Homo sapiens: one gene and its partners. The protein of the gene in region 1 interacts with the protein of each later gene in a pairwise test. Each region holds a gene or a part of one and is shown in the gene's direction. Other genes may lie near its edges. The genes, in order: AGTRAP, MUTYH, KCNK5 and HSBP1L1.

The links.
Region 2: the proteins of AGTRAP (region 1) and MUTYH interact in binary tests that used the Homo sapiens proteins (3 or more experiments, as listed by UniProt).
Region 3: the proteins of AGTRAP (region 1) and KCNK5 interact in binary tests that used the Homo sapiens proteins (3 or more experiments, as listed by UniProt).
Region 4: the proteins of AGTRAP (region 1) and HSBP1L1 interact in binary tests that used the Homo sapiens proteins (3 or more experiments, as listed by UniProt).

The regions. Positions count from the first base shown.
Region 1 is NC_000001.11:11,738,811-11,746,567, forward strand, and holds part of AGTRAP (type-1 angiotensin II receptor-associated protein), read left to right. Parts: intron 1-5,722; coding exon of another isoform or gene 5,723-5,758; intron 5,759-6,992; coding exon 6,993-7,027; intron 7,028-7,316; coding exon of another isoform or gene 7,317-7,413; intron 7,414-7,757. UniProt on the Homo sapiens protein: Appears to be a negative regulator of type-1 angiotensin II receptor-mediated signaling by regulating receptor internalization as well as mechanism of receptor desensitization such as phosphorylation.
Region 2 is NC_000001.11:45,336,579-45,345,237, reverse strand, and holds the start of MUTYH (adenine DNA glycosylase), read left to right. Parts: upstream 1-5,267; 5' UTR 5,268-5,339; exon of another isoform or gene 5,340-7,040; coding exon of another isoform or gene 7,041-7,052; intron 7,053-8,659. Other genes in the region: TESK2 (dual specificity testis-specific protein kinase 2), read left to right, coding at 1-398; TOE1 (target of EGR1 protein 1), read right to left, coding at 1,536-2,156, 2,236-2,395, 2,595-2,854, 3,131-3,289, 3,669-3,765, 3,895-3,935, 4,023-4,165, 4,916-4,985. UniProt on the Homo sapiens protein: Involved in oxidative DNA damage repair. Initiates repair of A*oxoG to C*G by removing the inappropriately paired adenine base from the DNA backbone. Possesses both adenine and 2-OH-A DNA glycosylase activities.
Region 3 is NC_000006.12:39,188,343-39,192,104, reverse strand, and holds the end of KCNK5 (potassium channel subfamily K member 5), read left to right. Parts: intron 1-349; coding exon 350-1,215; 3' UTR 1,216-3,134; downstream 3,135-3,762. UniProt on the Homo sapiens protein: K(+) channel that conducts voltage-dependent outward rectifying currents upon membrane depolarization. Voltage sensing is coupled to K(+) electrochemical gradient in an 'ion flux gating' mode where outward but not inward ion flow opens the gate.
Region 4 is NC_000018.10:79,960,067-79,968,233, forward strand, and holds the start of HSBP1L1 (heat shock factor-binding protein 1-like protein 1), read left to right. Parts: upstream 1-4,576; 5' UTR 4,577-4,669; coding exon 4,670-4,720; intron 4,721-6,545; coding exon 6,546-6,612; intron 6,613-8,022; coding exon 8,023-8,117; intron 8,118-8,167.

The DNA.
Region 1 (7,757 bases):
CCTGGGCCCCGGCCACCCTGGGGGATCTCACTAGCACGTGTAACAGGCCACCAAGTGTTTGCACAGGACTGGTAGGAGTTTATTCCATTTCTGGGAAGTCCTACCCCGCCATGGGTCCTCTAGTGGCAAACAAAGGGTTTAAGTCTTGGTCTGCATGCCCTGCTGGTTTCTCTTCAGCCTTTCCTTCTCCAGGTTAGACTTCCTCATTTCCATCTGCCCTCTACGGCTCTTCGAGATCCTGACGGTGTAGCACAGTGGACAGAGCACAGGCTTTGGGGGCAGGCAGGTCTGCATTCAAGGTCTTGAGTAGGTTTCTGTGTGACCTTGAGTAGGTTTCTGAACTCTCTCAGTATCTATTTCTTCATTGTAAAAAGAAGTTAAATACAGTCCCTACCTCCTAGGATGATGGATCCATGGTCCAGGACGTAGTCTAGAATTAGGGTTACAAATTCAGGCTGGGCCAGGCGTGGTGGCTCACACCTGTAATCCTAGCACTTTGGGAGACCCAGGCAGGTGGATCATTTGAGGTCAGGAGTTCGAGACCAGCCTGGCCAACATGATGTAACCCCACCTCTACTAAAAATACAAAAATTAGCTGGGTGTGGTGGTGCTCGCCTGTAGTCCCAGCTATTCAGGAGGTTGAGGCACCGAGGATCACTTGAACACGGGAGGCAGAGGTTGCAGTGAGCCGAGATCGCACCACTGCACTCCAGCCTGGGCGACAGAGCAAGACTCTGTCTCAAAAAAACAAACAAAAACTCTGGCTGGATAGATTGATTCTGACATTTGTGTCTGGGCTCTGTTGTTTGTAAGCTTTATGAATTGGGCCAATTTACTTAATCTCTCAGAGCCTCAGTTCTACCCCATACAGTTACACGGATGACATGAGTTAGGGGCAGTGCAGTGTAGATGCATGGCAGGCTGGTGCTTGTCAGTAGCAGGAGTTGCTGCTGTCGTTGATGATGCAGGATCCCTGCCCCACATAGGTATTTAACAGTTAGTAAACGGATACTTACAGTGACCGTCCAGATAGATGCTTGTCTCTGGCAGTTGAGGCACCCCCGTGGGACAAATGGGTACTGCCTCCGTTTCGCAGAAAGGAGCCTGAGGCCTTGGCGCCTGGACCAGCACCCAGGTTTCCTGTTCCAGCATAGCATCCTGGGACCCTCTGCTGCCTTGGTCCATTGACCCCTGTCTGGGAAAGAGCTGGGCGGCCTCCCCTGGGCTGAGCACTGTAGTGAGAGTCCAGGGGCTCAGGTCCGTCCTTCCTGCCCAGCTGGGAAAGGTCCTGGCCCTGCCACCCGTTTAGCTCAGGTTCCTTCCCTGCTTCCAGCTCCTCTTTCAGGCCATACCTGAGAATCCTGTGTCTCTTTGGCTACCAGGAAGCTCCCCCAGGGCCAAAAGACAGTGGTTTTGTCCTGACAGTTACTGGCCCCTCTTTCCCTGGGCTGCCAGGAAGTGCAGGGCCCGTTTGGCTCAGTTTCTCCCTGGAGTCTTCCTGCACATTAAGGCCTCTCTGGGTGTCCTCCTGTTACACAGATGAAGAAACTGAGGCAGGGGAGGCTTAGGCTTCTGGACGTTTCTTTTCCCAGGGGCTTAAGAGGAGCAACTGGTGCTAACTTTGTTCATATTTATCAAACCAAAGTGACGTCACGCAGAGGAGACTGTGTGTGTGCTAAGGATCTGCAGTATTTCCAGGTTACGTTGTTTTCTTCCCTAACAGAGATGGCAGAGGTGTGGGCCCAGCTGGGTGCTCACTCTGTATTACAGGCCCTTCCAGCGCTAGGAAAAGCCTTTACCTCATAGGTTGTAAGCATGACCCTTAGGGTATCCTGCGGATCAGAGGCCCCCCTGGGACTCAGCCTTTCATGCTAACTGCCATTCTTTCCGGAATAATCCAGGGCTCTGCAGGGCCCATTTATTAAAGACCTACTCTGTGTACAGTCTAGGCATAGGAGCGAGAGCATTGAAAATGAAGATCATTTCCAAAACAAGCCCAGAGTGGGAAGAGTTAGGTGTCGATTTTGGGGAGGAAAGGGGTGATGGGAGCTACCTTCCCTCTGTCTCTTTCCTCGGTGTCTTCTTTAAAAGCTGGATGTTGGGACCACTGTGGCTGACTCTGCGGTGTGGCCCTGAGCAAGTTCCTTCCTGTCTGTGGTCCAGGGTTTACTATCAGATGGAGGGGACAGTGGTTAGCTCTGAAGATAAAGATCAGAATCGTCCTCATGCCCAGCCCTGCCTGCCCCCAACTTCCTGTCCCTCCCTCCTCCACTCCCCTCACCTTCCACTCCAGCCACACTGGCTTCTGTTCAGTTTCCAGAAAGTTCCACGCCCCCCTTCTGCCACAGAGCCTTTGTGAGTGCCGCCCCTCCTGCTCAAAATGCTCTTCTTCCCCCTCAGCCTCCCCCATCCCTTCCTCAGAGAAGCCCCTGACCACCCCAACCCTCCCAGCCTCCCTGCTGTTCAATCAGGTGCCCTTTCCCTTGCTTTCCTTCAGGATGCTTTCCTTCAATCAGGTGCTTTCCTTCGGGATGAGGGTTCACTGCACCTCCATTCCTAGGGCAGAGTACCTGGTTAGCGAGGTCAGTACTGAGAGCGCAGCTCCGAATCTGCTCTGCACACCTCTGACTCCCCAGGGTGAATGAAAAGCAGGTGCCAGTGATGCTGGGTGACACTAAATGTTTAAGAAACTTAACACCGTTTATCACTTCAAGCCCCTGGGGATTGAAATCCATGGAAGACTACACCTCTCTTGCCTCAGTTTCCCCATCTTTGTAATGGGGAGAGGCCTAATGGCTGGACAGCACAGCCTGGGTTTGAGTCCTGGCTCTGCCACTGGCCTGCTCTGTGACCTTGGGCAAGTTACTTCCTTCTGAGCCTCAGTTTTCTCAGCTGTAAAATGGGGATAATAAGACCTCAGAGGATTGTAAGGATTTAGTGCATTTATATACAGAAAGCACTTAGAATGGCACCTAGCACATAGGAAGCGCTCAATAGTAGACGAAGGTAGGTGAGGTGATGGCGAAGATTCCTTCTAGAGCTAGACTTCTGTAACACACTACTCAGCCTGGTCAGAGTCTCGAGATCTTAAAGTTGGGTGCATCGGTCCTTACAGAATTATTTTCCTAGTCTCTTGGAGCTGAGAAAGGAATTTCTTTTGGGCCACAGAGCCAGGCCCCTTGTGGTTCACTCTGGCCCTGGGCCCTGGAGGTAAAGGTGAAGTATCTCAGCCACCAGCTCTGGATTCCATCTGCCCCCATGTGTGGACCTTTCTCACAAGCCCAAACAGTTCCCAGCTGAAGGCCTGCGCCCCCAGCGGGGAGGTTGGGTGCACTGGTTTTGGAGGCGAGTTTGAAATTTAATTCCAGTTTTGCCACTTGCTACCTGTGGAGTCTTGATCAACATAATTTATCTCTGAGTCTGGTTTTCTCATCTGTGAAATGGGAATAATAGTACCAGAGGCTGCTGTGAGGTCCAGATAAGGTCATGTGAGACGGTTGGCATAGGGCCTGGCACATAGTTGGTGTGTGGTCAAGAGTAACTCTTCTAGAAATGCTTTTTCCTCTGCTGCCAGAGTGAGTTTGTCTGTCTTTCTTTTCTGTCCTTTCTTTCCCTTCTTTCCCTTCCTTCGTTCCTTCCTTCCTTCCTTCCTTCTTTCCTTCCTTTTCTTTCTTTTTCTTTCTTTCTTCCTTCTCTTTCTCTCTTTCTTTCTTTTCTTTCTTTCCTTACTTTCTCTTTCTGGCAGGATCTTGCTCTGTCCCCCAGGCTGTAGTGCAGTGGCATGATCTTGGCTCACTGTACACTTGACCTCACTGGCTCAAGTGATTCTCCCACCTCAGCCTCCCAGGTAGCTGGGGCTATAGATGTACTCCACCATACCTGGCTAATTTTTTGATTTTTTGTAGAGATAGGATCTTACTTTGTTAGCCAGGTTGTTCTCGAACTCCTGGGCTCAAGCAGTCTTCTCCCTCCACCTCCTAAAGTGTTGGGATTACAGGCGTGAGCCACCAGACCTGGCCCACAGTTCTTTTTTGCAGGTGGTGAGGGCTCCTTCTGCCCTTCCACCCAGGCCAGAAACCCCGGCCTTCTTCGCAAACCTTGCCCATGTCTGCGCCAGGACACTGCCTCTGCCCCAGGCATGTGGCATCTCTCCCTTCCAGCCTGACCCCTCAATCCCTTGAGTAAACTTCTAGGGCCCTCATTGACCACCAGGCCCGTTGAAGCTCCCAATTTGGGGCTCCTGGCCTCCCAAAGTCTCTGTGCCACCCCACCCCGACCTCAGTTATCTCCATGCCCACCGCCACCCATGCAGGGCCTGGGGCTTGGCCCCACTTTGCCTGGCCGAGCCCCGCTCATACATTGTGCTCAGCCTGGGTCCCTTCCCTTTGGAAGCTCTTTCTGCAGCTGCCTGCCCTCCCAAGGCATCTGTCTTTTCTTTTCTTTTTTTTTTTTTGAGATGGAGTCTCACTCTGTCACCCAAGCTGGAGTGCTGTGGCCCATTTTGGGCTCACTGCAACCTCTGCCTCCCAGGTTCAAGTAATTTTCGTGCCTCAACTTCCGGAGTAGCTGGGATTACAGGTGCCCACCACCATGCCCAGCTAATTTTTGTCTTTTTAGTAGAGACAGGGTTTCGCCATGTTAGCCAGGCTGGTCTCGAACTCCTGACCTCAAGTGATCCACCTGCCTTGGCCTCCCACAGTGCTGGGATTACAGGGGTGAGCCACCGCGCCCAGCCCATCTGCCCTTTTTCTTTCTTTCCTTTTTTTTTTTTTTGAGGCGGAGGTTTGTTCTTGTTGTCCAGGCTGGAGTACAATGGCGCGATCTCGGCCCACTGCAACCTCTGCCTCCTGGGTTCAAGCGATTCTCCTGCCTCAGCCTTCTGAGTGGCTGGGATTACAGGCATGTGCCACCATGCCCGGCTAATTTTGTATTTTTAGTAGAAACGGGGTTTCTCCATGCTGGTCAGGCTGATCTCGAACTCCCGACCTCAGGTGATCTGCCCACCTCAGCCTCCCAAAGTTCTGGGATTACAGGCGTGAGCCACTGTGCCCAGCCTCCATCTGCCCTTTTTCTATGTGCTTTCCAGTCAGGGCCTTGTTGATGTCCCGGAGTAGAGACCAGTTCCAGGAGAGGAGGCTGTCATTTTAAGGACACAGAGGACATTAAAAAGGGTAAAATATTGTAGCTGGGTGCAGTGGCTCCTGCCTGTAATCCCAGCACTTTGGGAGACCAAGGTGGGTAGATTGCTTGAGCCCAGGAATTTGAGACTAGCCTGGTTAACATAGGGAGACCTTGTCTCTACAAAAAAACAAAAATTAGCTGGGCGTGGTGGTACACACCTGTAGTCCCAGCTACTGGGGAGGCTGAAGCAGGAGGATCACTTAAGCCCAGGAGTTTGAGGCTGCAGTGAGCTGTGATGGCGCCACTGAACTCCAGCCTGACCCACAGAGCAAGACCCTGTCTCCAAATTTAAAAAGAAAAAAGTAGAATATTGCAGAAATCCAGAAAAATAGCCAGGGGGATTTTGTTGTTGTTTTTCCTTACCATAAGGCATACCAAGCTATCTCCCTGTAGAAAAGTCTCAGTGGTGTCCCTCGTTGCACTTGGCATGAAGCCCACGCTCCTTCCCGAGGCCCTCAGGCCCCCCTACCTGTCCCCAGCTACCCTCCCTTTGCCCGCTCTCTCCAGCCACAACAGCTGCTTTCCCCTCTGCCCCCCACAGTGCGCCAGCTCCAGTGTCCCAAGAAATCACCCTCACGTGAGTCCCCACCGCTCCGCTTCCCATCGAGGCCTCTTCTGATTTCAGAGCAGATTCCCTGCATTCCACAAAGGAGCCTCCCACCCTTGTGTTACAGGAAAGGGGTCCCAATCCAGACCCCAAGAGAGGGTTCTTGGATCTCGCACAAGGAAGAATTCAGGGCGAGTCCATAGAGTAAAGTGAAAGCAAGTTTATTAAGAAAGTAAAGGAATAAAAGAATGGCTACTCCATAGGCAGAGCATCCCTGAGGGCTGCTGGTTGCCCTTTTTAAAAAAATTAATTAATTAATTAATTTACTTATTTTTGAGATGGAGTTTCTCTCGTCGCCCAGGCTGGAGTGCAATGGCACAATCTCGGCTCCCTGCAACCTCCACCTCCCAGGTTCAAGCAATTCTCCTGTCTCAGCCTCCTGAGTAGCTGGGATTACAGGCACACACCACCATGCCCGGCTAATTTTTGTATTTTTAGTAGAGACAGGGTTTCACCATGTTGGCCAGGCTGGTCCTGAACTCCTGACCTCAGGTGATCCACCCACCTCGGCCTCCCAAAATGCTGGGATTACAGGTGTGATCCACCGCGCCCAGGCTGGTTGCCCATTTTTATAGTTATTTCTTGATAGTATGCTAACCAAGGGGTGGATTATTCATGCCTCCCCTTTTTAGACAATATAGGGTAACTTTCTGACGTTGCCATGGCATTTGTAAACTGTCATAGTGCTGGTGGGAGTGTAGCAGTGAGGACAACCAGAGGTTACTCTCGTGGCCATCTTGATTTGGGTGGGTTTTAGCCGGCTTCTTTACTGTAACCCGTTTTGTCAGCAAGGTCTTTATGACCTGTACCTTGTGCTGACCTCCTGTCTCATCCTGTGACTTAGAATGCCTTAACCATCTGGGAATGCAGCCCACTAGGTTTCAGCCTTATTTTACCCAGCTCCTATTCAAGATGGAATTGCTCTGGTTCATACGCCTCTGACGCTTGGAAGGGGTGTGGGTGTCAGCTGCCCCATGGGAGGGGTGAAGGCATGAAGCGGCCCCTCCCTGGCCTGGCCTGCTTTCTTCCTCCTCCTTCACTCCTGGGCCACCTGCAGTTGCTGGTGTGCCTTTTCAACAGACATTACTGAGGCCCTCAGAGGTGCCAGGCGCAGGGGCGTCCTGTGTTTTCTGCACCCGACGCTTTCCTGCCCCTGTGGTGGTCATGTTCACAGACCTCTTCTCTCCCCCTTGTTGTGCCACAGGTGATTCTCCTAGGTCACTGGCTGCTGACAACCTGGTAAGTGACTCTGTGGGTATCTTGTGTGTCTCCTGCGGTCTCAGGGTCTGTGTCAGCCGGGTCAGGTCCTGGTTCTGCCGTGTTTTAACCAGGTCACTTTGGGCCAGACAGCTCTGCCTCTCCGGGTCTTGATTTCCGTCTGTACAATAGGCATAAGGATTGCACACCCTGCAGGAGCTGGGAGGGAGACGTGGAAGTGCTCATCAGAGCTCCCCAGGGCCTGCCCCACAGTGAGGCCTCAGCACTGCAGCTTGATTTTCACCTTTACCATCTCTTTTAATCTGTTGAGCTTCTGGAGACATTTCTCTGCCAAACCAAGACTGGAAACCATTGAGCTCACCTGTGCACTTTGCAAACTTCGAAGTGCAGCGCACAGGGCAACAGCTGTGAGTAATGTGAACTGTAACCATCATGATTCACGACCTTGAGAAGCAGGGCCAAAATACAGATTTCTTAGTCACACTTCCCCAAGATTCTGAGTTGGTGATTCTGGGCTGGGACCCAGGCACCTGCTTTCTTAAAAGCAAAAGATAAGATGGTTTATTCAAAGACCTATTGAACCGAATGGCACTCCACACCTGCCTTGCACATGTCTTCTGCATGTTACACTTTAGTGAATGTCCTATAAATCTAGGAAGCGCCCGCTGCATGCAGGGGAAGGCAAGGCCCAGTGGGTTTGGTAATAAATGAGGTAGACTCAGTCCCTGTCCCCCTGAGTCTTCCTTGCAGC
Region 2 (8,659 bases), about 34 Mb from region 1:
TGGCTGACTGGCAGGAGCCCCTGGCCCCACCTATTCGCCGGTGGCGTTCCTTGCCTGGTTCGCCTGAGTTCTTGCATCAAGAGGCTTGTCCATTTGTGGGCCGGGAAGAATCGCTATCTGATGGGCCCCCACCACGCCTAAGTAGTCTCAAGTACAGAGTTAAAGAGATCCCACCATTCCGGGCATCTGCCCTACCAGCTGCTCAAGCCCATGAGGCTATGGACTGCTCCATTCTCCAGGAAGAAAATGGTTTTGGGTCCAGGCCCCAGGGGACCAGTCCATGCCCTGCGGGTGCTTCTGAGGAGATGGAGGTAGAAGAAAGGCCAGCAGGCTCAACTCCAGCCACCTTCTCCACCTCAGGCATAGGCCTGCAAACCCAGGGAAAGCAGGATGGGTGAGGGGGTTTAGTCCCTGCCTCACCTTGGGGATGGACCTTCAGCTGAAACCATATGGCCCCCTAGGTGCACAGCCTTGATTCTTCCCTGGAGCCTACAGAGCAGGCAGGCTAGGCCAAGCCAGGCTCAACTTCTGGGCTCCCAGTGCCCATTGGCTGTGTATGACGGGAGGCAGCAGTGAGAGGCCTTCCTAGTTAGGGCCAACAGCTGATACCAAGCCTCTGAAATCCAGCAAGGAGGTCTGCCTCCCACCAGACCCTCTCCAGTGTACTTCCCCAGATAGGACCAGAGGATGTCTAGTTCTAGGCTGAGCTGGCAGGCAGCTATTACCCCGGTTCTTTCCCCACCCCAGGTCTGTCTCTTGCCTTTTCTTGGGGCATATAAGCTACTGAGTGGAACATGGAGCTGATCAAGAGGCCGTAATGGTCATGGCTGTTTCCCAGACCTGAATATTGGGGTGCTTCTTGCCAGTATTCTAAGACATTTGAGTAATTGCTGTTTGCACTTACTGCATGGTCAGACCACGTCACTACATTTCTATGCAAGGGGACAGCAAGGCAGCGTGGTGGTCATGGCTCTTAGCTAACCTATTCAAAGACCTTTTCCTGTTGATTAATCTATTTTCATATTTATAAAGGAGTCTTAATGTTCTGCCCCATAAGACTTTCAACCTTGTGGTTGGGAGTGGGGCTGGTTTTGTAGGCCCTAGGGCCTGCTTCTATGTATTTATCAACATGTGATACATTCAATTGGTTAAATGGTTTATACAGGGACTGATTTGCTTCCCTTCCTGCCATGGCTGGAGCTTTGGGAACAGTCTGTCCTTACAGAGCTGCAATAAGAAATAACCAAAGATGAAGCTGGTCAAATATTTTCATAACTTGCTTCTGTTGATTTTTTTTTTTGTAAAACTTTCCCAAGACATTTTCAGACTTAAAAATAAAGTCAGTGTTACAGGTGCTGGTCAGCCTTCTTACTTGTACCTCAAACACTGGGATAAAGGAGGCGGTCCAGGGCAATGCAGTGATGTCTGTCAAGACATTCCCCCTCCCCTAAACTCAGTAGCAGTTGAGGATGACATTTCAGGCTAGAGAGACCCAAAATACCTCTGTTCCACCTGAGAGCAAGGTGGAAGTTGCATCAGCTACTGCCCCAAGTGAGCTTCATCTTCTGATTGTGGGCTTTGGAGGAACGAGAGAACTGGCTCTTGGCCACTGTGAGGGGTACAGCTTTGCCACTCAAATATACCTTATTGTGGCATTCAGGGAGCCAGGGTCCAGAGCTGCAGGGCTGCGGTCCCTGGCTCACTTCCACATAGGCCATCACATAACCTGTCATAAAGGCATCAAAACCAGCCCGGTGCAATCCATCCCCAGGCACTGGGTTAGGACTGGCTTGGCTCCCTGGCACTTCTGAGGTAGCTCTATCAGCTATTTCAGGCCTTGCTGCCTTAATCCCCATCTCTAAGTCATTTTTGTTGCCTTGCTTGGAGTGAGGCAGGTTCCTAGTTTCATCGGCAGCCACCTCCTGCTCGGTTTCTTCAGGCTTGATGCTATCCCCACAGACCTGCTTCTTGGGAGGACCATCCTTAGCTTCCCCAGAGGTCTGTGTCCCCGGTAGGTTCAATAAAGCCCTCTTCCGTTTTTCCCTACGTCGTCGCCGTCGCCGCTTGTCCTCTGCCGCAGCCTCATCAGTGTCAATGATAAGGTCAATATCGTGAGACTGAGGACACTGTGGTCCCAGGGGGCACCAGCCATAAGCCTAGGGGTGGGAAAGAGGCTTAGAAAGAGGCTCCAGGCATCAGAACCTTCCCTCCCAAGAAACAGGTGGGTGCTCTCACCGAGAAGTTGTCACAGATGCTGGTGGGATGAGGACGGTGGGTTGCTGGGGGCAGGCAGCAGCGGTAATCAATATGGTCCCTCATGCTGGAAGGATAGTTGCAGAACTCCAGGGTAAGGTGTGGGCTGCCAGCTGCCCGCTGCTTCCCATTTTCCCGTTCACTGCAACAGCGCAAGAGGGTAATGGTCCACTAGCATATAAGCTCCATAAGAGCAGGGTTTTGTGGTCTGTTTTGTTCACTGCTGAATCCTCAGCACCTAAAACACTGCCTGGGCACATGGTAGGAGCTCAATAAATATCTTAAGTGAATGAAATAAACTCGTATCAGGCCCCACCCCTTTCCCTCAACCATTTCCTCACCATTTCCGGAAGGCATATTCTAAGTAGGAGGCCACGAAACGGGCATGAAACTCAGCAGCATATTTGGTGTCATAAATGCCTGCTGGGAACATCTCACACAGGTCAGCGGTGAAGGTTCCCAGACTCTCAGGGAGGTGTGCATAGAAGTTCTGGTACAGGAACACCAAGTCTATAAGGCCATTGTGTAGCACCAGGGGCCGGCGGGCTCGGATTAGCTCCAGGAATAGGGTCCGTACTGACTGGCTCTGGCTCTCATCACCCTAGATGAAAGTAAAGGGGTCAATGAGGAGGACAGAGTCCCCCAGGGAGCCTCTTCTGCTGGGCACTTATCCCAGACTTCCCCACTTGGAACGCTCTCTCTCTACCTTACCCAATGCTGCCCACCCTCCTCATACCAGTCTTGTTTCCCAAGCCCTGTCACTAGTGATTCCCCATACTCCCTAAGAAGCAGATTCTCCCCAGACATCCAGCCTAGGGTAGGAAGAAATAAAGTCACAGAAAGGGCAGACTCAAGGCTAGGGAGGCTAGAGGCCTACCTTGTCATTGCCCTTATGGTAGGGGATGCCTTGGGCATACTGCTGGTTGAAGTTGAAGCCATGCTGTATCAGGAACTGCACAGACTTTGGTTCTATGACATACTCCTCCATGCACAGCAGAGTGAGATTGAACACTTGAGCCAGATAGGAATGTTCACCCTGGGAGAAAGAGAAGTCTGCTATATCAAGATTTCAGAGAGCCAAGCTAGGAGGATGCAAAAGCTTAAGAATGATACAATGGACTCTGGGGACTCAGGGGGGAAAGGATGGAGGCAGGTGAGGGATAAAAGACTACGCATTGGGCACAGTGTACACTGGGTGATAGGTGCACCAAAATCTCAGAAATTGCCACTAAAGAACTTACTCATTTAACCAAACACCACCTGTTCCCCATAAACCTATTCAAATAAAAAAAAAAAAACTATCAAGTCAAAAAAAAAGATTTGGGAGAGAAATGCTTCCTATCTGATGTTCCCTAGAATCTCTCTACCCTCCACCCCACAGCCACACCTAGGATTGGGGTGAGATCAGCTCATACCTTGTCTGGCTGCCGCTTGAAGCAGGCGAGGCCCAGGGAAAGGATAGAACGGGTCCTGGCAGCATGACACACGGCCTTGTAACGTTCCTCAATGCACCTTGGGGTTGGGTATGGGGGTTGCTGTGGCTAGGAGTTAGCCTTATGAAGGACCCAAACCACCCAGGTCTGTGACCCCCCCACTCCACAGTTGAGGGCTGGCACTAAAGAGAAAAGGGCTTATACTTACTGGTTCAGCAAACTCTTCCTGTCCCCAAGCCCACTCAGCTCCTGTGGGTAGGTAAAGGGAGAGTTGTGACAGGCCTCTAGCACCAGCCCCTTCACAACCACCTGCCCTCCTTGTTTCCCAACTCTCACCGTGTCCACAGCCACGAAATTAGCTGTCTTTATGGCTAGCAGGAGGGATGGCCACATCTCCTTGAAGTTGTTGCTTTGCACATCCACTACGGGAACCTGGACTACTAGCTCCTCCCCAGATGTTGTGCTTTTGCTGACACCACCTGGGGGTTAGGAGGGTGATGGATGTTCATGCTTAAGGAAAGAGCCCAGGGGAACAGACACCAAGCTAGGCCACGGTGATGGTGGTAAGGGGGGTAGTTTCCATTGGTAGCTTTTCCCACAAGCCTTTGTAACCCACGTGTTCTACACACAGGCCTTGGAGTGGAGAATGCCCTGAATTTGGGGAGAGGAAGCCTGAGTCTTCTACTGGCTTGTATGAGCCTGGGTAAATTACTTCCCACCTCGCTTTCACAATCTGTAGAGGAGAAAGTTGGACTAGACGACCTTTGATTCTTTTTTCCCATGTCCTGCAGGAAACATTTTGTAGGGCTTGAGGATCTCAGCTCCCTTAATATCCCACAGGGATCCATACTACTGTTCTCATGGTGCCCCAGCGCCACAAGCAACAGCTCCCAGTAAGCCCCAGAGCCTGGCAGTGCCCCACACCAGAGCTCCCAATACGTCCTACCTTCCTTTGGATCACAACGCTCAATCCACTCCACTGAACTGAATCACAACTATTACTACTAACCGTTATGAGCTCCAGACTACATCTCCCGCCATGCCTCCATCAGCCCCATGCTCCCAACGCTCCAGGCTTTTGCAGCCGGAGCCGCGGTGTACAACGGAACTTGTAGTCTCCTCGTGGCTAGTTCAGGCGGAAGGAGCAGTCCTCTGAAGCTTGAGGAGCCTCTAGAACTATGAGCCCGAGGCCTTCCCCTCTCCCAGAGCGCAGAGGCTTTGAAGGCTACCTCTGGGAAGCCGCTCACCGTCGGAAGCTGCGGGAGCTGAAACTGCGCCATCGTCACTGTCGGCGGCCATGACACCGCTCGTCTCCCGCCTGAGTCGTCTGTGGGTACGCTGGACTTGCGGTCCGTCTCCTGGCGCGGTTCAGGCAGTCGGGGATGGGGCGGGGTCTCGCCGTCGGGTCGCCGATGGGTCGAACTTCCGTTCAGACGTCCCGGGTCCGGCGCGGGGAAGGCAGCCTGGCGCGCGCTAATTGCCTATTGGCCTGTGCTGCCGGCTCGCAGCCCGGGTGGACCCGAGCCACGCCCCCTGGAGTGCGCCGGAAAGCCGGGCGCGCTAGAGCTCGCGGGAGGTAATCTTTCTCTCCTGCTCTCGCGGCGGGAACGCGGGGCCTCCGTGTTCTGCTGTCTTCATCAGCGTGGGCCGCGGGTAGCGGGTAGTGGGGTGGCTGGGTTTGGGCTTTCCAGAGAAGGTGACGCTGCCTGAGCTGAGCTTAAAGCACGCCCAGGAGTTAGACTAGGAGAGGGTCGTGTGGGGGAAAGAAGGGCGTTCTGGGCATCGGTAAATTCCCAGAGAGGATGGAGAGCTCAGTGATCTCCAGAAAGTGAAAGAGGCGGGGAGTGGGCCATCGGAGGAGGCTGCCCAGGGTGTAAGAGCGACCGATTGGTAGGGAAGCTTTTGTAATAATCCAATCAAGTGATAATGTGAACTTGAATTAAGGCTGGCAGTATGGATGGCGAGGAAGGGACAAATTGTGAAGCAGCTAGGCGGTATAGTCGACCTAGAGGGTGATTGAATTTGAAAGAGGTTCCTAGGCCGGGCGCGGTGGCTCACGCCTGTAATCCCAGCACTTTGGGAGGCCGAGGCGGGCGGATTACCTGAGGTCCGGAGTTCAAAACCAGCCTGGCCAACATGGTGAAACCCCGTCTCTACTAAAAGTACAAAAAAAATTAGCTGGGTATGGTGCGGGCGCCTGTAATCCCACTACTTGGGAGGCTGAGGCAGGAGAATCGCTTGAACCTGGGAGGCAGAGGTTGCGGTGAGCCGAGATCACGCCATTTTGCACTTCAGCCTAGGCAACAAGAGCGAAACTCCGTCTCAAAAAAAAAAAAAAAAAAAAAATTCCTATTGGAGACTAGTCCCTCCGTAAACACTACGATTCCCATCCACCTCTGCCTTCCAGTGCTCCTTTGTTACTCATTGTTTATAGTTAATCTTCAGCTTCTCTCAACTGAGCCCATTTCATCATTATTCAGAACTGCTTGGGCCGGGCGCAGTGGCTTATGGCCTGTAATCATCTTAGGAGGCCAAGGTGGGAGGATCGCTTGACCCTAGGAGTTCAAGACTAGCCTGGGCAACATAGTGAAACCTTGTCTCTACAAAAAGAAAATTAAAAATTAGTTGGGCATGGTGGTGCGCACCTGTAGTCCCAGCTACAGGAGGCTGAGGTGAGAGGATGGCTTGAGCCCAGGAGGTCGAGGCTGCAGTGAGCCATGTTCTTATTGCACTCCAGCCTGAGTGGCAGAGCAGCAAAGTGAGGGACACACTGTCTCTAAAAACAAAACAAACAAACAAAAAAAAAACAAAAATAAAAAAACTCTTTGGATTTCTCCTATCCTAAAAAAGGGAAACTCTTTTGACTATCCCCCATCCCATTAATTCATTTAACAGGTATCTATTGTGTACAGTTTACCTGGCACTGACTTTGGACACACACCAATCAACAAGAGAATCAGTCCTTGCACTCAAGTCGTTTTTTACAGTCAAATTCAGGAAGTACACACTGATGGAAAGAATCAAAGTAATGTAAAATTACATTAGGTAAGAGCTACAAGGCAGAAATATGTGATAGGATAAGATGAGGGGACCTGATTTGGACATTTCAGTCAAGACTTGAAAAATGATAAGGTGTTAGGTAAAAGCATAAAAGAGTCCAAACAGAGGAAATGGATTGTGTGAGGCCCCAAGGTGGGCAGACACACTTGAGGTGTTTAAGCAACTAAATTCAGTCAACCTTGGCTAGAGCATAGTGAGGGGATGAGGCGGATGGTGCCCGGATCACTGGACCTGCAAGGCTGTAGTAAGAGGACTGCCTTCTAAGAGCAAGGGTGTGGCAGCCAAATCCCTCCAATGGCCTATAAGGTACTTTGTGACCCTCCTCTCCCCACCTCATCTGGTTTACTTCTCTGACCTCTTCTACCACTCAGTCCCATCTCATTCCATTCTAACCACATTGACCTACTTACTGTACCACAGACATACCAGGCACCCTCCTTGGGGCCTTTGCACTCACTTAGAATGCTTTGGGTCTACCTTGACCACAGTCTTTAAAATTGCAACATTAAACCCCACCTTGGCACTCTTTTTTTTCCCCTCTTGGTCTAATTTTTGCTTTTTATGCTAATATTTATCACCTAACATCTTATGGAATTTACTTATGTTCATTATTCCTTTTCTGTCCCCATTAGAATATAAGCTCCCTGAGGGCAGGAACTTTTGATGTTTTATTTACTGAAGTATGCCAAGTGCCTAAAACTGCTTGGCACATATTAGGGGGCTCTATAAATATTTGCTCAATCTTTTTTTTTCTTTAAGAGACAAGGTCTTGCTGAGCCCAGGGTGGAGTGCAGTGGCACAATCATAGCTCACTGCAGCCTCGACCTTCTGGGCTCAAGCTGTTCTTCACTTCAGCCTCCAGAGTAGCAGGATTACAGTGTTGAGCCACCACAACCAGCTTGCTCAAGAATTTAATGACCCATAGTAAAGGCCTACAGTATTTAAAAAAGAAAGAAAAAGGAAAAAAGGAAGGAAGGAAAGAGGGAGGGAGAAAAAAAGAGAAAAGAAAGAAAATAAAAGAATATAATGGGGTGTCACCAGGCGCCGTGGCTCATGCCTGTATCCCAGCACTTTGGGAGGCCGAGGCGGGTTGATTGCTTGAGCTCTGGAGGTGGAGACTAGCCTGGGCAACATGGTGAAACCCTGTCTCTAACAAAAATACAAAAATTAGCTGGATGTGGTGGTGGTGTGCGCCTGTGGTCCCAGCTGCTTGGAGTTGGGGTGGGGTATTGGGGTGGGAGGATTGCTTGAGCCGAGGAAGCAGAGGTTGCAGTGAGCCAAGATCACACCACTGCACTCCAGCCTGGGTGACAGAGTGAGACCCCATCCCAAAAAAAAAAAAAAGAATGGGAAACCATTGAAGGTTATAAGGAAGGAAGTGACGTGATCTGGAAAAGATTCCTTTGCTCTTTGGAGAATAGATTGTAGAATGAATGTGGAAGTAAGCAGGTTTGGTGAAGGAAGTTTGGCTATGAAGGGAAGGAGGGTGGGATTTGATTGTGTTACGAGCCAAGGGGAAAATCTTTCCCTTTGCCCTCTGAAGATCTGCTGAAAAATCAGCTCACAAAAGGCAGGTTAACTGGAGAAAAGGCATACAAATTTATTAACATGCACATTGGGAGAACCATAAAGTGATTACCCATCTCCCTACAGAGTTCGTGAGTTTATATACCATCTGGCAAAACAGATTATGGGAGGGGTGTCTCACGTGTGTCCATGTGAAGAGACCACCAAACAGGCTTTGTCTGAGCAACAAGGCTGTTTATTTCACCTGGGTGCAGACAGGCTGAGTCTGAAAAAAAGGAGTCAGCAAAGGGTGGTGGAATTATCATTAGTTCTTATAGGTTTTGGGATAGGCATTGGAGTTAAGAGCAATGTTTTGGGGGCAGGGGGTGGATCTCACAAAGTACATT
Region 3 (3,762 bases), on another chromosome or scaffold:
TCAGACTGGTTTCGAACTCCTGACCTCAAGTGATCCACCTGCCTTGACCTCCCAAAGTGCTGGGATTGCAGACGTGAGCCACCATGCCTGGCCTGTCTTGACGTTTCTAGTTGAGGAAACCGAGACTCAGAGACAGGCTGGAGACTGGGATGGGGTCATGAATGATGGCAGGCCCAAGCCCTTGAGGAAGATGGGATAGTCCAGGGTCTAGAACAGGCCCCTTTCTATCCCACTGCACCCCCGTCCTGTGCTCTGGCCTGACCCCTGCTCAGATCACACAGCATTGGCCATTGCACATTTCCCGGGCCCTGCTAACTCTTCCTGACCTCTGGACTGCCTGTCCGCTCAGGTGTGAACCCCAGCGCCAACTACCACGCCCTGTACCGCTACTTCGTGGAGCTCTGGATCTACTTGGGGCTGGCCTGGCTGTCCCTTTTTGTCAACTGGAAGGTGAGCATGTTTGTGGAAGTCCACAAAGCCATTAAGAAGCGGCGGCGGCGACGGAAGGAGTCCTTTGAGAGCTCCCCACACTCCCGGAAGGCCCTGCAGGTGAAGGGGAGCACAGCCTCCAAGGACGTCAACATCTTCAGCTTTCTTTCCAAGAAGGAAGAGACCTACAACGACCTCATCAAGCAGATCGGGAAGAAGGCCATGAAGACAAGCGGGGGTGGGGAGACGGGCCCGGGCCCAGGGCTGGGGCCTCAAGGCGGTGGGCTCCCAGCACTGCCCCCTTCCCTGGTGCCCCTGGTAGTCTACTCCAAGAACCGGGTGCCCACCTTGGAAGAGGTGTCACAGACACTGAGGAGCAAAGGCCACGTATCAAGGTCCCCAGATGAGGAGGCTGTGGCACGGGCCCCTGAAGACAGCTCCCCTGCCCCCGAGGTGTTCATGAACCAGCTGGACCGCATCAGCGAGGAATGCGAGCCATGGGACGCCCAGGACTACCACCCACTCATCTTCCAGGACGCCAGCATCACCTTCGTGAACACGGAGGCTGGCCTCTCAGACGAGGAGACCTCCAAGTCCTCGCTAGAGGACAACTTGGCAGGGGAGGAGAGCCCCCAGCAGGGGGCTGAAGCCAAGGCGCCCCTGAACATGGGCGAGTTCCCCTCCTCCTCCGAGTCCACCTTCACCAGCACTGAGTCTGAGCTCTCTGTGCCTTACGAACAGCTGATGAATGAGTACAACAAGGCTAACAGCCCCAAGGGCACATGAGGCAGGGCCGGCTCCCCACCCCACCTTTGATGGCCTCTTCCCCCCTCACCCTAGGGTGTCCCGAGATGACCGGGACGCCTGGCCCCTGGTGGGGGGGCAGCCTCGGAACTGGGAGTGGGGGGCCAGGGGCCTTCCTAACCTTCCATCATCCTCAGCTAGATGTATGCCCGGGACAGGGCCTCTGTTCTCCAGCTGAACCATACCCTGGCTGTGGGGGCATCTGTCCTGAGCTTGGCTGGTGTATCTCACAATGCAAAGACATGCTGGCTGGCGGGACAGGTGGGCAGGACTGACCCTGAGGAGGCCTTGCCTGCAGGGTCTTTGTCTCACCATTTGGTGGAGTATCACACGGTTCTCTGAGGTCTGGGGCCTCAGCTGTTTAAGTTTACCGGTATTACTGAGCTCGGCATTTGGAGAGGGAGCTCTGAAGTGTCTGGGGAGGTACCGCTGTGCGTGGGGTCAGGTGTTTCCGTACCACAGCAGGAGCAGGGCCCGCCCGCATCCCAGCTGTGGGCCTGCCGGTCAGGTCGGGCACCTACTACAAACCGTAGTGGGGTGGAGGCTGCTGGAGGTGGGAGTGAGGAGATGAGGGCAGGGTCTCAAACAGTCCTGACTCACAGGGCCTGGAAACAAGTCCTATGTGGGCCTGGGGCCTGGGGTCCTCATCCTCCTTGTTGGTCTACTCAGGCCCAGCCCAGAGCTGTGTTCCCTGTCTCAGGTCAAGCAGTGGCAGACGCAAGGCTTTCTGTGGGCCCCCAAGTGGTAGGAGGGAGAGTAGCAGAGCATGGGTTACTGGAAGCCGGGACTGCTAGGGCTGGTGGCCAGGGAGCTGCAAGAGTGAGGCTCAGCTCTGGCTGGTTCTGCCCTTACCCCTCCTGCCCGCCTGAGAACTGCACACCCTGCCCGCTGGCCCCAGGACCTGCACTCCCAATCCTGCTGTCTTCTCCTTCCCTGTGCCCTGAACAAGGACCTCACTGCCCGCCTTCCCCTCCCACCAGCCCCCTTGGGCCAGGCAGGGTGAGGCCAAATTGCTCTTGGCCCACAAATGGGTGATGGTCAGATATGTGAATCAAGCTCCTTTCTCTAGCTAGTGTTTGATGTGCACGTGTGTGTGCACAGTGCGTGTGTGCACACGCACACCTGTGCACTCGTGTGTGTTTAAGAAAGGAAAGGATTTGGGCTGGGGAGCAAAAGATAATGTGAAACTGTTGGTGGACTCTCTGGTGAGGGGTGGGCAGAACTTGCTGCTACTAGAGTTCTTGGGTTCTCCATGATGTTCACCCTGGGGCTGGCCCACTGTGTCCTGAATGTTTTTGTTATTTTTTGTTTTATTTTTTAAACAAACTGCTGTTTTTATATACCTGGAATCTGTTGTTGGCTTCAGAGCCAGTGGTTAAAGAGCAGGGTCCCAAGGATTGGGAGATCTAGTGTCTGCCCTCCTGCCCTGCAACTCAATTGGGCCTTTTTCGGTGACCTCATCCAAGGCCATGATGTCAAGGGCCATGTCCCCAAGCAGAGGTGGAGAAGGGGACACTGAGGTGAGCAAAAGCAGGAAGGGGCATCCACTGCGGGTGACTGGAGGCCGGGCAGGAAGCAAGTCATCAGAGCCGCTCAGCTCCGTTCACTCTCTGCCTTCTGCCCCACTACTGTGGGGCAGTGGGGCCAGAGCCCACCTCCCCAACATGTGAAGACAGTGATGGGCACGTGCCCACACCCCCACTTCTCTAGCCGTTTGCAGAGGCCGCCACCCAGCAGGGGCCTGAAAAGGAGCAGCCTCGTATTTTTCTGTGAAATGTTTTAATGAACCATGTTGTTGCTGGTTGTCCTGGCATCGCGCACACTGTATGTACATACTGGCAACGATGTCAAATGTAATTTATTTTAACATTTTTACAATAAAACATGAGGTGGACAGGCCAGCTTGGTGTGTGCTGTGTGTGGGTCAGGTTAGAGAGGGGTTGGCTTCTGGCCTCTGAGCAGCAGGGGAGCCTGGGCGCATCCACAGAAGATAGAGAGGACTCAGGACAGACTGATAAGAGGATTGGATGGTCTGGAGGGGAGAAAAGAATGAAAAGAGATGAAGAGAGCGGGGAGAGGCAGGCCTCTGTGGGGAGGTAAGGACGCGGGAGGAACATTGCAGTAGAGGTTTGAGAATCAGGAAGGAGTGGGAGGAGCAAGGGGAGAGGCGGGGTGATCATGGCAAACGCATGTCACTCACCACTTTGTCAGGCACTAAATGCTTGCACTGAATAATACGTGAGTGGACTCATTTGACCTGGCAAGAACCCTGAGAGGGCATCAGTACATCTCCATTTTATAGACGAGGAAACAGGCACAGAGAAGTTGCCTTGTGCAAAATCTCAGTAAAAATGGTGAGACTAGATTCAAACCCAGGCAGCCCAGCTCCTGTCCCCTCTACCACTGTGATGAGATGAAAAAGACTACCTGTGGTTTTGTGGCACACCCAACATCTCTGGAAAGGGCTCCTGTCTCCAGGTAGGTGGACCAGAGAACTTGAGCGAAGCTCAAGCCTTCTCAACTCAAGGG
Region 4 (8,167 bases), on another chromosome or scaffold:
TCGAGAATGCACATCATTTTCTTGCTGTGTTCCTAAGGTAGAGGAGACCACTTTGAAGACCCGCAGTCCATATTGGCATTGTAGAATTTGAGCAGAGGGCCATTTTGTTCTGTACTAAGAAAAATTCTTCTGCCTTGAGATGCTGCTAATCTGTAACCCTACCCCCAACCCTGTGCTCCCTGAAACACGTGCTGTGTCAACTCAGGGTTAAATGGATTAAGGGCTGTGCAGGATGTGCTTTGTTAAACAAATGCTTGAAGGCAGCTTGCTCGTTAAGAGTCATCACCACTCCCTAACCTCAAACCACTCCCTAATCTCAAGTACTCAGAGACACAAAACACTGCGGAAGGCTGCAGGGACCTCTGCCTGGGAAAGCCAGGTATTGTCCAAGGTTTCTCCCCATGTGATAGTCTGAAATATGGCCTCATGGGAAGGGAAAGACCTGACCGTCCCCCAGCCCGACACCCGTAAAGGGTCTTTGCTGAGAGGATTAGTAAAAGAGGAAAGAACGCCTCTTTGAGGTTGAGATAAGAGGAAGGCTTCTGTCTCCTGCTCGTCCCTGGGCAATGAAATGTCTCGGTGTAAAGCCAATTGTATATTCCATCTACTGAGATAGGGGAAAACCGCCTTAGGGATGGAGGTGGGACATGCTGGCAGCAATACTGCTCCTTAAGGCATTGAGATATTCGTGTATATGCACATCAAAAGCACAGCACTTTTTTCTTTACGTTGTTTATGATGCAGAGACATTTGTTCACGTTTTTACCTTCTGACCTTCTCTCCACTATTATCCTATTATCCTGCTGCCACGCCCGATAATGATCAATAAATACTAAGGGAACTCAGAGGCCGGTGCCAGTGTGGATCCGTATGCTGAACGCCGGTCCCCTGGGCCCCCTTTTTGTTTCTTTATACTTTGTGTCTCTTTCTTTTCCAAGTCTCTCGTTCCACCTAACAAGAAACATCCACAGGTGTGGAGGGGCAACCCACCCCTTCACTGTGTTGTCTCCATCAGATCCAGCTGAAGAGCTTTGCTCGAAAGCCAGTCCTTGGCCAGCATGGCCTCGTGCCTGTAAGTCCAGCGCTTTGGGGGGCCGAGGTGGGAGGATCACTTGAGCCCAGGAGTTTGAGACCAGCCCTGGCAACATATGGAGATCCCTGTCTCTAGAAAAATAATAAAAAATAGTAGCCGGGCATGGTGGCGTGCCTCTGTAGTCCCACCTACTCGGGAGGCTGAGGCAGGAGGATCCCTTGAGCCCAGTTCAAGGCTACAGTGAGCTATGATTGCACCACTGCACTCCAGCCTGGGTGACACAGCAAAACCCAATCCCAGAAAAAAGAAAGGCAGTCCTGTCATCTCCACAGACCACCCGGCCTATGTCGGTGAGGCCTGAGGCTGCTGTGTGCGGCGATGCTGGGTGGTCCTACTCGGGCTGCCCAAGAAGCCTGACCTGAAAAAGCAGCCAGGGCTGGAGGGACGGCCCAATATGAGCCTGGCCGATGCCGGCTGGAGAGGAGAGAGGCGTTCCCAGGTCAGAGGCAGGCTCGTCTCGTCTTCTGCAGGGCCAGTTCCAGGCTCGTGTGGGCCAGTGGGGCTCCCTGCTCGTTTAGCTGTCTGTGGTTAGGAACGCATAGCCCATGAGGACAGGGTGCCCAGCTTGAACCTGCACCCAGAGTCAGCCAGTCAACATCTGAAGATAACGGGTTCCACAGGGTGCCCACAAGCTCTCCAAAGTCCCAACGCCAGTCTGCCTTCACGGCTGTCCGAAGTGCTTTATCACTGGTGAGCTCAGTGCTGTCAAGAGCTCTGTGGCCCCTGCTCCGCCTGAGTAAGGGAGGAGCGGCAGCCAGGGAGCAGCCCCGCCCTGGAGACACCGAAAGCCCTTGGGTCTGCGCCTGCCCCCACCACGAGGGAGCCGTCCCCTGAAGCCATGAGCTTGATGCTGGGCTGTCCCTGGAGTAAAGCTTCCGGGAACTCCGTGCCTGCAGAGTAAGGGAAGAGGGGACGTTCTAGAACTTTCTGGAAGGGAGGAAGGAGGGCAGTCTGACTGGCTCCCTGCTCATTTAGCTGTCTGTGGTTAGGAAAGCTGCCTGTGGGCTGATGAGGAACCCTGTCGTGGCCCTGCCGTGGGGCACCACTGCCCATCTCCTCCCGCCTCCAGAGATGAGCGCCCTCTGAAGAGCTTGGAGGGCTGACGCCAGCCCGCTGTGTCTGCCTCCTCTCTACAGGCGTAATTTCCTTTTCCCCTAAGTTAGCTTGAGTGACTTCTGGTTCTTGACACTGAGGTGTGTTTCTGATGGAAACACCACCGGCTTGTACTCCTTGCCCCCCACGCCAGGCAGGCTTTCCTGGGTGCAGGCCGTCCACCCTGTACTGTGGCATCTTCTGGCCCTGCCTCCTCCTCCTCAGCAGCCACCCACACTGGCTTTCCCGAGAAGCCAGAAGCCGCCCGGCAGGATTCCTTAGGCCTGAATGGTCCTGGGAGTGGGCCGGGAGCCACAGCACAGCAGCCACTTTCCACCCACACCGCGTCTTTCTCAGCCGTCCACACTGGCCCCTACAACTAAGTTTGTATCTCAGCCTCTCTCAGAGACAGAAAAAAAGAGGAGGATGCTAAAAGCACACAAAAAGTGGCAAAATGGCCATGCTTTTAAAAAATAATTTTAACAGCTTCATTGAAATGTAATTCACATACCACAAAACCCACCCATTTAAAGGGCATAATTCAACAGTTTTGAGTATATTTACAGGGTTGTGAAACCTTCTTACGATCTAATTTTAGAACATTTTTGTCCCCCCACAAAGAAACCCCAGACCTCCTAAATCTCTCCGCACTCTCCCTCGTCCCTGCAGCCCCCAGCAACAGAAGTCAACTTTCTGTCTCCGTGGCCTTGCCTGTTCCAACTCTCCATGGACTTACCACTCAGGGTCTTCACGCCTGGCCTCTGCCACCCAGCGTTGTTCCGGAGGCCCGCCTGCTTCGTAGCGTGCGTCAGCGCCTCACTCCTTTGTGTGGCTGAGGAATATTCTATCATCTGCATTTTGTCACCTACTTATTGGGGGTGGACATTTGGGTGGTTTCCACCTTTTGAGCATTACTGATGCTGCAGTAGACTTGGTGCACTCGCGCTGTCGTTTCGGTATATGCCTAGGGGTGGCGCGGCTGGGCCCTGTGGAAACTGCTTCACTTCTGAGGACCCACCCGACTTTTTCACAGCACTGCAGCCTTTCACAGCCCACCGGCTGCGTGGGGGGGGCCACAATCCCCACACGCCTCTCGGACTTACGTTTGTCTCTCTGATTCTAGCCATGCTGGTGGGTTGCAGTGGGAGCTCATTGTGGTTTTGGTTTGTGTTTTCCTGATGACTGGTTGTAATGAGAAAAACCGAGAATCACATTTAAAACCTTACCCTAAAGTGGGAGTTGCTGAGAGACCAAAGAATGACTGGGCGGAGTCCAGCTTGGTGAGTAGGTGAGTTTATTAGGACTCACATGTGGGGCACTCGTGGGCAGCAGGACAACTCTAGAGATGAGCGTGCTTCTGTCCCTAAGCTGCTTTTGAGCTAATTTTCTGCCTCTTTGCGCCGTCTGTGTGATGGGCCTGCTCCCTGTGGTGGTTCTCACATCCCCTCCGGGCTGTTTGGGTTCTCAGGGACACCTGCTCCTCGCTGGGCACCGTGGCCTGGACTCACCGCCTGGCCTTTAGGGTTCAGGCCACAGACATCCGCCCTGAAGTAACCTGGCGGGAACCGCCACGCCACAGCGGTGGTGCTGGGTGGCTGTGTTTTATTTATCCGCACATGGAGACACCAGAGCTTCCAGGTGTGGTCACTGGGCTGTGCCCTAGGGATGCTGGGGTGACCAGACATAGCCCTGTTCCCACAGCGCTGCACAGGGGCACAGACATGGCAACAAGACTGGTAACCCTAAAACACCGTCCTGGGAGGTCACCCACAAGGTGACGAGCCACAACCCAGGTGTGAAAGAGGCCAGGGAAGGCCCGGCGTGGTGGCCCAGGCCTGCGGTCCCAGCACTTTGGGAGGCCGAGGCAGGAGGATCACTTGTGCCCAGGAATTCGAGACCAGCCTGGGCAACATAGTAAGATCCCGTCTCTACAAAAAATAAAAAAGATCAGCCGGACCTGGTGGCGCGCGCCCGTGGTCCCAGCTACTGGCCAGGCCGAGGCAGGAGGATCGCTTGGGCCCGGGAAGTCGAGGCTGCGGGGAGCCATAGTCGCCACTGCACCCCAGCCTGGGCCACAGAGCGAGCCCCCGTCTCTGAGAAACGCAGCAGGGGTGACCGAGGCCCATGCACTGCCCGTGCGGAGCGTTTTGGGGGTGTAGGTGGCCGGTGGCGCCCACGGGCCCTCTTGAGTAAGGCGGCTCCGCCCAGGCCGTCCCGGGGCCTCGGCTCGGCTCGGCTCGGGAAGCCGCAGAGCCTGGGGGCGCGGACCAGTCCTCCGAGGCGGCCGCTCGGTGACATTGCGTCCCTGCAGGTGCAGCGCCCGCCTCTCCGCTCCGGCCCCGCCTCCGCCCTGGAACGCAGCGCGCTCCGCCCGAGGCCTCCCGGCGGCCCATACGGGAATCGCGGAGCTTAGCTGTCGCCACCTCGCGCCGGGTCCGCGCGGCCCACGGGACCCCCCACTGACGCCCCCGGCCAGCGGTCCACATGGACGTGCGGGGCCCTGAAGCCCCCGGCGGGCGCGCGCTGCGGGACGCGGTGAGCCCCTCCCCGACTCCTGCTTCTCTCTGGATGGGGGCGCCCCTGCGGTTCTGGGGGGTTTTGAGGTCCTGGGGGGGGAGCCTGCGGTGCTGGGGGTGCCCTGCGGTCTTCGTGGGGCCCTGAGGTCCTGGGGGGCCTGCGATCCTGAGGACTCCTGTGGTCCTGAGGAGTCCTGAGTGCCTGGGAGGCCTGTGGTCCTGGGGGGGCCCCTGAAGACCTGGGGGACCCTGCGGTCCTGGGGGGGCCTGAGGTGCAGGGGGGAGCCCTGCTGTCCTGGGGGACCCTGCGATCCTCGGGGGGCCTGAGGTCCTGGGGGGAGCCCTGCAGTACTGGGGGGCATTGAGGTCGGGGTCAGTGGGGAAACAACTGGGCCAAAGGGTGCCCGAAAGGGGACCCACGAGTGTCGCAGCGCCCAGGGCTCCGGCCTCTTCCGGGAAATCCTCCCGCTCCCCAGGCCTTCCTACTTGCCAAAGAGTTCCAGGCCCACAAGAGGACTGGCTATGAGGAAGAGACCTGGAATCTGAAGGAATGTGTTGGGCGTTGTGCAAACCCTAACGTAAATTTCCTGACAAAGGTAGAAAGCCCTGGCATGGTTCAGAGGTGGGGCCTCCTCCTATGTCGACGGGATTCTAGATTCACACCATGGTACGTGGGGCTCCCTGGGATCTTGAACCCCCAGCTGGGAGAATTTTGTGCTTCTCAGCCTCACTGTTCTCATCTCACCCTGGACACGGTCGCAGGGTGAGGAGTAGATTACACCGTGAATGGTGTGGGACGTCAGTCTGTAAACTACAAAGCAGTATATAAACAGGAAACGCTTTCAGTAGCAATGGTGGTATTTCTGTGTGACCTGGTAAGTAATTTCATAAGAATTCTTGAGGAGCGCAGGGTCACGAGATTTTCTCCTGCATCCTCCTCTGCATGCTTTATGGCCTTGGCTCTGGGCCAAGGTGTGTGATCTCCTGCATTCATGGTGTGTGGTGTGAGGAGGGGGATGGGTCCCTGCCCCGTCTGCACGTGGCCCTCATGATTCCCGCGCTGCTTGTTGAAAAGACTTTCCTTTCCCTCTGAATCCAAAGGCCTTAGCACCTTTGTCAGAAGTCAACAGATTTATGGATGGGTTTATCCCATGATATTTATTTTTTTTATTTTTATTTTTTGAGACGGAGTGTCACTCTGTCGCCCAGGCTGGAGTGCAGTGGCGCGATCTCGGCTCACTGCAAGCTCCGCCTCCCGGGTTCACGCCATTCTCCTGCCTCAGCCTCCCGAGTAGCTGGGACTACAGGCGCCCGCCACTGCACCCAGCTAATTTTTTGTATTTTTAGTAGAGATGGGGTTTCACCTAGTTTGCCAGGATGGTCTCGATCTCCTGACCTCCTGATCCACCCGCCTCGGCCTCCCAAAGTGCTGGGATTACAGGCGTGAGCCACCGCGCCCGGCCTTATCCCATGATATTTAAAATGTCATACGTGGGCCAGGTGTGGTGGCTCATGCCTGTGATCCCAGCACTTTGGGAGGTCAAGGTGGGCAGATCACCTGAGGCCATGAGTTCAAGACCAGCCTGGCCAACATGGTGAAACTCCGTCTCTACTGAAAGTATAAACATTAGCTGGGCCTGGTGGCACATGCTTGTAATCCCAGCTACTTGGAGGCTGAGGTGGGAGAATCACTTGAATCCAGGAGGCGGAGGTTGTAGTGAGCTGAGATCGCGCCATTGCACTCCAGCCTGGGCAACAAAACAAGACTTCATCTCAGAAAAAAAAAAAAACTCATATGCCAACAGTAAATATTTATTCAATTGTCTTACGGTTTATTTTTTCAGGCAGAAAATCTATTTCAGGAACTTCAGGAACATTTTCAAGCTCTGACGGCAACATTAAACCTCAGAAATATCCTTTTCTACCTTTAACAAATGCTGTGATTCTTTCGGACTGGTAGATTATCATGGAGTATCTTTTTGTTGTCTGGTAGTAGTAGGTAATAGTTTACTTAGGATTTCCCAGTATTTACTTCTGTGCTTTTATGTGGCTTCCTGATGTGTTAATTACCCCTCACCTATAGCAAAAGCTGTACCTCCGGCCGGGTGCAGTGGCTCACGCCTGTAATCCCAGCACTTTGGGAGGCCGAGGTGGGCAGATCACGAGGTCAGGAGATGGAGACCATCCTGGCTAACACAGTGAAACCCCGTCTCTACTAAAAATACAAAAAATTAGCCCGGCATGGTGGCGGGCGCCTGTAGTCCCAACTACTCAGGAGGCTGAGGCAGGAGAATGGTGTGAACCCGGGAGGTGGAGCTTGCAGTGAGCCGAGATCGCGCCACTGCACTCCAGCCTGGGTGACAGAGCGAGACTCCGTCTCAAAAAAAAAAAAAAAAAAGCTCTACCTCCTGCTTGACTGGCAACACAGGATGTCTTGTGCAGCAAGTATAAAGGACAAAAACACAAACATATAACACTTCCCAGTGGGGCTTCCATCAGTCCCCAACCGGACAGTGCCCCCTAGACCATAGACCCCACAGAGCATAACACTGAAGCACAGGATCCCAGATACGGCTCTCCCAAACTTTGTTTTGTTTAGTTTAACATCGCCAACTCACTGTTTTGTCTTAGAAACATGAAATCAAACAGAATGAGAATATAATTTTTTTTGGAGTTGGAGCAAATCTAGATAAGGGTCACAATTGCCCCAAGACTTGCCCAATTTGAGCTCATGCTACACAATTAAATATATTCCTTAAATATTGTGTGCTTGCAACTTTTGATTTTGTAAATGGGTTCCCACAGGACAAAAATGAGTCTTAAACATAAAATTAAACCATATGAATGTTAGTTTTTTAGTTAATTTCAGCTGGGTGGTAGTCTATAGTCCCAGCTACTCGAGAGGCTGAGGCAGAAGGATCGCTTGAGCCCAGGAGTTCAGGGCTGCAGTGAGCTGTGATCACACCACTGCACTCCAGCCTGGGGGAAGAGCAAGACCCTACAAACAAAAAAGAGTTAATTCCATTATATTTATTTTTACATACCCAGAGTTTGACTAAAATATACCAGACAATCTCCTGTCCCCAAATCCATGTCCAAGCAAGGGGAGCCACGTTTTCTAAGCTCACAGTTTAAAGGTTAAAGAGACACACTGAGGAAAACTCAGGGAAAGAAGCTGATTTGCATGGACACTAGGCCTGTCGTTGATTCCCTCATTTCAAAAGTTGCATGTGCCATGGGAGGCGGAGTCTCTGAGGACATCCTGGCTGTGCCTCGGCGGCTCTGGACTCCAGCTCTACGCAGAGCGCCTTAACACTGTACTGGAAGAAATGGGAAATCGCATTGAGGACTTACAGAAGAATGTCAAGGACTTAATGGTGCAAGCTGGCATTGAAAATTCTATTAAAGAACAAATGGTAAGGTTATTAGCAAACTATGTCAACCGTTTTCGTATGTTTTGACTGCT